Linked DNA regions of Homo sapiens. The protein of the gene in region 2 purifies or fractionates together with the protein of the main gene of each other region. This does not show direct contact. Each region holds a gene or a part of one and is shown on either strand. Other genes may lie near its edges.

Evidence for each region.
Region 1: the proteins of THAP2 (region 2) and FAM76B purify together in Homo sapiens (affinity purification with mass spectrometry; one large-scale study listed by BioGRID and IntAct). This does not show direct contact.

What each region holds. Positions count from the first base shown.
Region 1 is NC_000011.10:95,779,783-95,783,282, forward strand, and holds part of FAM76B (protein FAM76B), read right to left. Parts: intron 3,483-3,500; coding exon 3,283-3,482; intron 167-3,282; coding exon of another isoform or gene 145-166; coding exon 97-144; intron 1-96. UniProt on the Homo sapiens protein: Negatively regulates the NF-kappa-B-mediated inflammatory pathway by preventing the translocation of HNRNPA2B1 from the nucleus to the cytoplasm.
Region 2 is NC_000012.12:71,673,071-71,678,944, forward strand, and holds part of THAP2 (THAP domain-containing protein 2), read left to right. Parts: intron 1-1,132; coding exon 1,133-1,328; intron 1,329-3,618; coding exon 3,619-4,038; 3' UTR 4,039-5,874.

The DNA of each region.
Region 1 (3,500 bases), on a different chromosome or scaffold from region 2:
CTGATTTTGGTAAGACTTAAGTAACAAAGTTGAAGGGATATCACATTTATAAATATACATTTCAAAATACTTCAGAAAATACAGCAATGTATTTACCTCTGTTTCCACAGTCCCTGCTCTTCTTCTGGACTTAGATTGCTGATTCTGAAAAATACACAAATGACATCTAATAATGACATTTATTTATTTAATACATCTAAATTTAACATTCTTTCTCAATGGATACAAATTTTATGTTTATAATATTTTCTTCAGAGAAAGGTATATTTAAGTTTTCAGACTAAGCTAATACATATTGAATAAATCACATTCTGATGAAATAAATTTTAATAAAATGACTGCTAACCATCTCAAGTTCTTCAAGAATTCTTTATAATCAGGATCTCCACAGTTCAATTTAATATCATACAAAGGGTGGGTTACACAAGTAGTTTTCGTGCTTGTGTCTAGGTATCACTGTACTTTGGCTGCCCTTACTATTTCAGACACAAAATTTGTATCTTTAAAGTTAAGGCTTTCCTAATAATCTGAAGTAGAGATTCTTCTTTTGGAGTAACTCAAGTTGCTCAGAATAGTATTTCAATTTAAATGGGGAAATATATTGATTTCTTTGATTCTTTCCTAGTTTTCTTAAGAATCCTCTCCAAAGTCCATAGAGCTCTCTTTAGTTAGTATTCTGGAGAAGTTACGCTGAAACTATTGAGAAATTTCATAGTAACAAATTATTTTACTTTTACTCATAATTAATACTGTAATACTCCTTTTCTATTTTACCCTAATACTAATAATCACTTTATAATTCATCATGAATCCTTCATTTTTTTCCTCCTAAACTTGCATATCAGTCAATGCTTCACTAACCCTAGCTTATTCACTCAGCATGTAGAGAGCATCTCCTATGAACCAGATGCCACGTATTTATACGATTTAGAAGATGTTAGAATACCTGAGCTGTGACCTTATGCAAATTACTTAACATCCCCAGCCTTAGTTCCCTCATATGTAATACATACCTTATACTGATATGAGCATTAAATGAGTTATATATGTAAAATCACTTAGTACAGTGCTAGCATATACAAAATAGACATATATATATATACATGTTTACTTGTGTCTAAAATTTACTATTGGTTCAGCTGTAGAAGTTTTTTAAGCAAAAGAAAAAAACAAACCTTAAGACTCAGCTGTAAACAAGTACCAAGTTGGGAAAAAAATGTTAATAGCAATAATTCCATCAAGTGAGTTATTCTTACTTGTGAATGAATGGAAATCCTATTGAGGAATGCAGTTGTCCCTTTTTTTTTTTTCCCACAAATTTCATTATAAGCCTAACAAGCCATACATGAACTAACAGCACTAACCATATCTCAAAGTTAAGAATAATCACATTAATATCACTGACAGAAACACTTGGAATTCCCATCTTATCTTTCTGAGGGTTGTCCATTCCTAGATTCAGACCCACCTTAGTGCCACCTGGCAACCACATCCCCTACCCCTGCCGATCACTATCTATCACAATATGAATGCTCCTCATTTTCATTCTGATCTATTGAACTTAAGATAGGACCCTACAAAGTAACTGTTCATCAAATGGTCAACAGCCATCAAATAGAAAATAGTGTTTGTATTTCATAAGTAACCAGAAGTAAAAAAATTGAAGACTTTCATTTTCAATACTGTTCTCTTTCCCTTTATTTTTGAAACCTGTCATTCTTTCAAAAAATTAAGTTGCTGTCACATACTTTAGTCTTCACAAACATAATCTGATTGTGTCCTTTTACATCATGCTAAGACAAATTTATCTGTAAAGAATAGGGAAAGGAGACATTTTGGGAGTCTTAGAAGTAGGTCTGACATATGCTATTATGGTATATAGTCATTTTGTCATATTTTTTCTTAAAGCAAGAAGCAAAAACAAGGTAGACTTATATTATTTTGCTTCTTGAAATACTCTGATATAAAGATCACAAGGTTTCTTCAAAACAGCCAGAAGAGAAGACACTGCATTGTAGTCTACCACTGCCACATTTAGAAAACACTACAACATGGTAGAATTAAACATCACTAACCTCAACGTAACCTCATAATCTAATAGGTGATTGGATACAGTTTACAACAAATCTTACTAATTAGACAGAACTACATTACATTCTAAAAATACTGCATGTGTTCCAAAATGAGGTGGGCATCAGTTGTTTGTAAATTCTGTTTTAAATAACTATCTGAAACTTTAAAGACTCACAGAAAAATTTAAGAACAAACAATAAATTATTCTGAAAATGGGCATGCCATATGTCCGTTTTTTCCATTTTAATTTGTGTTTGTCAGTTTAATTTGTATTTTCATGTTCTTGATTTTTCCGTGAAGACTAAAATTGCATTTTAAAAAATCTTTATACCACACACATCAAGGGTTAAGGTACTACTACTACTACATAACTCCCCCCACAGGTCACTTTAAAAATCAAGTACAGCTGACCCTTGAACAACCCAGGTTTGAAATGTATGGGACCACCTATAGGAGAATTTTTTTTTCCCAACCAAATACGGATCAAAAATACAGTATTTGGAGGATGTGAAACCTGCATATATAGAAGGCCAACTTTTCCTATAGGCAGGTTCCACAGGGTCAATTGCAGAACTGGAGTATATGCAAATTTTGGTCTATGAGGGGGTTCTAGAACCAATCCCTCAAGCATACTGAGGGAAAACTACAGTTGTCTCTATTTAAGTAGAGTTCCTAAATATATGTTTGAAAAAAACACAAAGTATCATTAGTTAAAAATATTGCTCATATTTTGGGGACCACAAAGATCAGAAATGCTTCTATCATAGTAACAAATTATAGTATTAAAATATGTTCTCCAAACCCAGTCATTGGTTTGTTTCGATTTGTTTTTACTAAAACAAATTGACAACTAAAATATAATTTTTCAAATAAAACCTTAACAATTATTTAAACAAAAAAAGAATACTGAGGCTTTTGATAAGTTATTTAAGTGTTAATTAACTGACGTACTTGTATTTTGACTTTACATGGTTATAATTTTATAGATTTTCCTAAATATCTGTATTATGGTAAACAGCTCAACATATTTCATGTATATAACATTCTACACTGAATAAAATGGAGACACAGCCTTAGACACTCAAGATGCTTACTGTGTACAATGGAAACTAGACTAGCACATAGTCAATATTTGCAAGAAGTAAACATCAATAAATGGCATTAAAATGCAAGGAAGAGTTTTAGAAAATATGATTTCAAAGTACTTACTTGTGATGGCTACTGCTGTGACGATGGTGATGGTGATGATGGTGGTGATGATGTTTTGGATGATGCTGGTCTTTCTCAGTAAGAGATGAAGAAGATGAATTTGAATGTGAAGATCCCAGGCTCTTCCTTTGTTCTTTCGTCTTCTGTAAAACTCTTTTGTACGATAAAGTACAGAGCCAGCATAATAACTTTCCATCAACCTTTTAAGAAAATGTGTT
Region 2 (5,874 bases):
TATACTGCATCTTTGCATTTGTTTACATTCTTCTGGACTGAATGATGCCATGTATGGTCTCTGTAAATTTTGATAATTTTAACTTTTAAAAATCTGTTTATATTTCATGGTAGTAAATGACAAAATAGACTAGTATGTGTATATTTCATGGTAGTAAATGATAAAATAGACTGGTATCTACATATATTTTATGTATTAATGACATACCTTTTTCTTAATTTTTTTGATGTTTCCAGGCTACATGGTTTGTCTGCAAGTTTTTTCCAATTGTTTCAAATTCAAATATATTTATTGAAAAAAATACACATATAATTGGACCTGTGTAGTTCAAACCTATGTTGTTAAAGGGTCAACTGTACTTTATATTTGAAATATGAAAGGAAAAACATTGCTACAAAGCATTTTACCTTTTTGTAAGTTTACTTTCTGCTGCACTACATAATTAAAGAGTTGACTTTTTAAAAGTATTTGCTGTTTACATACAGTATATTATTACTCTGTATTTGTATTAATTTAGCAAATTTTGTTGAATCCCTACTGTTTGCAAAGCATTGTGCTAAGTGTCAAAGATAAATACATAACAAGATATAATGATCCCTGTCCTCAAGAAATTTATAATCTTTATGTCACTGGAAATTAAAATGGAAAAATTACAAAACAAGGTGGTAAGTGTCTTAATGATGGGACATAGAGGAAAGAGTACCAGAATCTGCCTAGGCTTTCCTTGACAAAATTTAATCTTTAGATATCTGATTTTTCTTGACTACATATATCAGCAGCAGATTAAAGCGTGGTGAAATTACTCCCGCTTATAATTGTTCTACTTAAACTTGATCTAAATCAGTTTAGTCATGTTTTATTTACTGCCCAGATTAAGGGCTAATTGGGAAGAAATGTCTCTTTTTAAAAGCCCTGAAAAATAAACGACTCAAGTCAGTTTTTGACTAAGTTTTTCAAACTTATAAAACATTACCATGAATTGGTTTCTGTTCCAGTGTCTGGATATTGTTAGTTTAAAATTTTTTAGGTAAATGGGACACACTTTTAATCATCTTCGAAATTTCTTTTAATCATTTAGGTGCAGCCAGAATTATGATAGTTGGAATTTGAGTTGCATTTTTTTTTTTTTAAGGTTTCCTTTGGATCCTAAAAGAAGAAAAGAATGGGTTCGCCTGGTTAGGCGCAAAAATTTTGTGCCAGGAAAACACACTTTTCTTTGTTCAAAGCACTTTGAAGCCTCCTGTTTTGACCTAACAGGACAAACTCGACGACTTAAAATGGATGCTGTTCCAACCATTTTTGATTTTTGTACCCATATAAAGTCTATGGTAGGTAATGTTACTCTCCTTTTGTTAAAACCATTTTTAGAACTCATTCCTTTTTGTTTATGCAGTTATTAACTGAAATTCATTTATAGTGATATGCCTCAAAAAAGTTGCAGACCTTCCTCTTGTACAGTAAAGGTACAGGCTAGAATCAGAGTTTGGGTCTCCTGACTCCAATATTCTTTCCCCAATCCAAATTGTTTTACTATATTGGAATTTTACATTATTACCCATTATTATTAATAATTGCACCATTGGTAAAACTGAAAAATCATATGAGTAATGAAACCTCCAGCATCACTGTGCTCTGATTTTAAAATGACATACAAATAACATGTGCAAAGTACTTTAAGAGCACACAGCCAGAATTAAACCAAAGAATGTAAGTTCAGAGGGAGGCAGGCATGACAGAAATCTTCAGAGAGCTTGGGCATTCAGGGTGGGCTTTTGAAGCCTTGGGAGTTTAAAATAGAGGAAAGGGAACTTGGCTTTGCACAGAATAATTACAGTTGCATAATGAGAACAAAAACGAGTGGGTTGAGGCGTGAGTAGGAAATGTTAGCAAGTGATATTTAAAGGAAAGAATGAAGAAAAAATGAAGCAAAAAAAAGTAAATTAAAAAAAACGAAAGAATAAAGGTATAAGATGAATGAATTAAAACAATGTTTTATCTAGTTAGGGAAGATCTGACCAGAGAGGAAAACCTAGCTGGGAAAGACAGGGTCACCAAGAGTAAGAAAGGGTAAAATGAACACAAATAGTTTAGCTTTGAAAGGGAGGACAAACATGTTTTCCTCTGAGGAAAAACTACTGTTTCTCTTGTTTGTAACTGTTAAACTTTTAAATGTATATGAGTTATTATCTGAATGGAGACGAGGTTGTGGTAAGCTAATTACCACTGATGTTAGAAAAGCTCCAGGAGGACAAGAACTTAGTCTTTTTCACACGTGAATCCTCAGCACCTCAAACAGTGCCTGGGACATAGTATATACTCAAATACTTACTGAATTTGAAATACACCTTATTTTTGACATTTTGATAATTTATTTATTTAATAAATACAACTAAACTTTCCATTATGCCAGAATCTAAGCTCAGTGCTAGAGATACAAAGATCAAAAAAGAGTTCCTGTCAATTCCCTAGGCAGAGGGACTAACTGTAGGTTTCATGAGGATAGGAACCACATCATCTTATTTGTTCAGTGTTGTGTCCCCAGGAATGCATAGTATGTGTTTCAATAAATGTTTAATGAATTAAAGACACAGACTTATGAGGATATGATATAATCTGGAAACTCCCAGTGGCTTAGTATTGCTGGAGTATAAATCAAGATGGTAAATTGCAGAATGGGGTGAGATCCTAAATTGTATAGTATGCCATCTAAAGATTTATTTTTCCTTTAGATAATAGATAGGCAAAGAATAATTTGGCCAGAATGGAAAAGTCAAATATTCTAGAAAAATTATTCTTATGGCAGAATGTGGATTAATGAGGATCAAAATGAAGTGGAGAGATCAATAAAGAATAATATAGTCAGAACAGATATGATACGGGCCCAGTGTAAGTAGTGACATTAAGAATGACAGTGTTCAGCCTTATTGTGGAACAGAGAAAGGAAAAAAAAGAATGACGGAGAGGAGAGGATTCATGGTAGGAATATTTAGTGGGTAGAATTAATAGGACTTGATGACCATTTGAATGAAAGAGATAAAAGCAAAAAAAGTCTCCTGATTTTGGCAAATGTTCCTAGCCAGATTTTAAATCCTTGAAGATATAACCATCAAAAATTAATAGGTAAATCTGTTTAGAAGCTTGGTACTTAAGAATACATTTCTACAGATCCTTCAGTTTTCATTAAATAGGACCCTGGGTCTAAAATATTTATCAAATTGAGAAAAGGGTATTTAATTAAAAGGGGATCAAATTAATATCATAAATAATATCTACATATATTGTAAATTGACCTTAGTAAATTGCAAAGGATCTTTAAAGTCTCTATAGAGTCATAGTCAATAATTTGGAAGAAACCTTGGACGTCCATTGTCTATTTCCAAATCAGTGTTTGAATCTCTCTGGATATGGGACAAAAAGAAATAGGTGACTAGAGTTAATTCAACCAGTTAAAAAACTTAATCTTGGATTACATGAGATGGCTGCTGCTGTTTCCTATTAAAGTTTTAAAATTGACTTTTAAAAGAGCAGTTTAAATACTGTTATCCAAAACTGGACACTATGTGCTTATTTGTGATATTTCATAATTTATGTTCAACCCTCTAATTTTATTCGGCTCAGAAACTCAAGTCAAGGAATCTTTTGAAGAAAAACAACAGTTGTTCTCCAGCTGGACCATCTAATTTAAAATCAAACATTAGTAGTCAGCAAGTACTACTTGAACACAGCTATGCCTTTAGGAATCCTATGGAGGCAAAAAAGAGGATCATTAAACTGGAAAAAGAAATAGCAAGCTTAAGAAGAAAAATGAAAACTTGCCTACAAAAGGAACGCAGAGCAACTCGAAGATGGATCAAAGCCACGTGTTTGGTAAAGAATTTAGAAGCAAATAGTGTATTACCTAAAGGTACATCAGAACACATGTTACCAACTGCCTTAAGCAGTCTTCCTTTGGAAGATTTTAAGATCCTTGAACAAGATCAACAAGATAAAACACTGCTAAGTCTAAATCTAAAACAGACCAAGAGTACCTTCATTTAAATTTAGCTTGCACAGAGCTTGATGCCTATCCTTCATTCTTTTCAGAAGTAAAGATAATTATGGCACTTATGCCAAAATTCATTATTTAATAAAGTTTTACTTGAAGTAACATTACTGAATTTGTGAAGACTTGATTACAAAAGAATAAAAAACTTCATATGGAAATTTTATTTGAAAATGAGTGGAAGTGCCTTACATTAGAATTACGGACTTAAAAATTTTGCTAATAAATTGTGTGTTTGAAAGGTGTTTTTTGTTTTTGTCTTTTTAAACTACTGTTAAAAGAACAGCTTATGATAAGTAATATGTTTAACTTAGAGAAGAATTTTTTCCTGTACCAAAGTTGGCATATTGCATTCTAAATAAGATGCTAAATAAGAGTTAACCAACATTCAACATGACCTTAAAACTGCTGGGTTTTGTATTAATTAAATTATAATTGGCACTGTGATTTGAAAAATTTATAGAAAAAAAGGTACAGGGCAAGTTTTTAAATTAAAACTTTCTATATTTTGTTTTACCAGTAAAAGTGAGCTTATCATGGCCTCTCTCATAAGAATGATTTTAAAATAGGTTGTAAAATATTTTGAAAATATTTGAATGTGAAGTACCATTGAGTCATCCAAACTAGGTAAGGCCTCAAGTACTTTAAACTAGTAAAATCTAGTAGCTGATAATATTCACCTAAGTAAGTGTTGTAAAATAATTCAGAGTTCAGGACCTAGCTTAGATAAATGTATACTACTCTTTTTCTCATAATAAAAATCTTACATTTCCAACTTCAAAATTGGTGCTTCCATATTTGTTGATAACCAAAACTCCTAAGGTTTTTTGTTTTCTTTTTAACTACTTTCCAAATGCATACTATACCTCAGAAATAGTGTATCAATATAGTGGGCTTTTTTTTTCCTCTTCATAAACCCACAGTAAAATTTAATCACAGGAAACTACTTATATCTTCACACTTTGTATTGATAACTTAAAATGGCATCAGTTTATCTTAGACATCAGCTTGCTTTTTATCTCCTTTTTTAGTGAGTGAAATAGAGCAACTAGCATGCCTGTGTTCCCAGCTACTTGGGAGGCTAAGGTGGGAAGATCAATTGAACCTAGGAGGTTGAGGCTATAGTGAGCTGTGATTGCACGACTGCACTCCAGCCTGGGCAATGGAGTGAGACTCCTGTCTCTAAAACAGCAACAACAAAAATAAAGCAACCATAGTGCATAAGGGAAATTAAATGTTCCCTATAGAAATATGTGTATGTCTGTGATAGTGGTATGCAAATGCTAATTATTTTATAAAATAAAAGTTCAGAACTATTCTTATCATTGCCACTTGAACAATTAAAGGGTTTGCTTTATTTCACTAATGTTTAATAGGAACCCTTTGCTTCAAACAGCTTTGTTGAAATCATGTAAAAATTTGTTAATAGAGAATCAAGTTATTTAACTCAACTTATTTAATTCAAGCTTGTGATACTAACATACAAAGGTAGCATAAACCAAGTCATAAATTGCTGTAATCTTTCCTGTAAAGTAATAGCTACTTCATGATTTTTTTAAAAATTTCATTTTTTTGCTATTTAGGATTGCATTTGCTTGGCTCCTAGTAACAATTCTTTTACAGTATTAGCACTCTCTTTACTAAGGAATGCCTCCCAAGGAAATGCAAAGGTAGGAAAAGTCTCTTAGAATGCCCATGAGGTATTTAAAACAGATATTTATGAAAATCTTTTTGTGAATGTTATAAATCTTGCTAGTTATTTTATCTTTATCTTAAGTATTAGATGTAGTTCCTTGGAATTGTCATTACATATTTATTTTTTTCTAGTATGG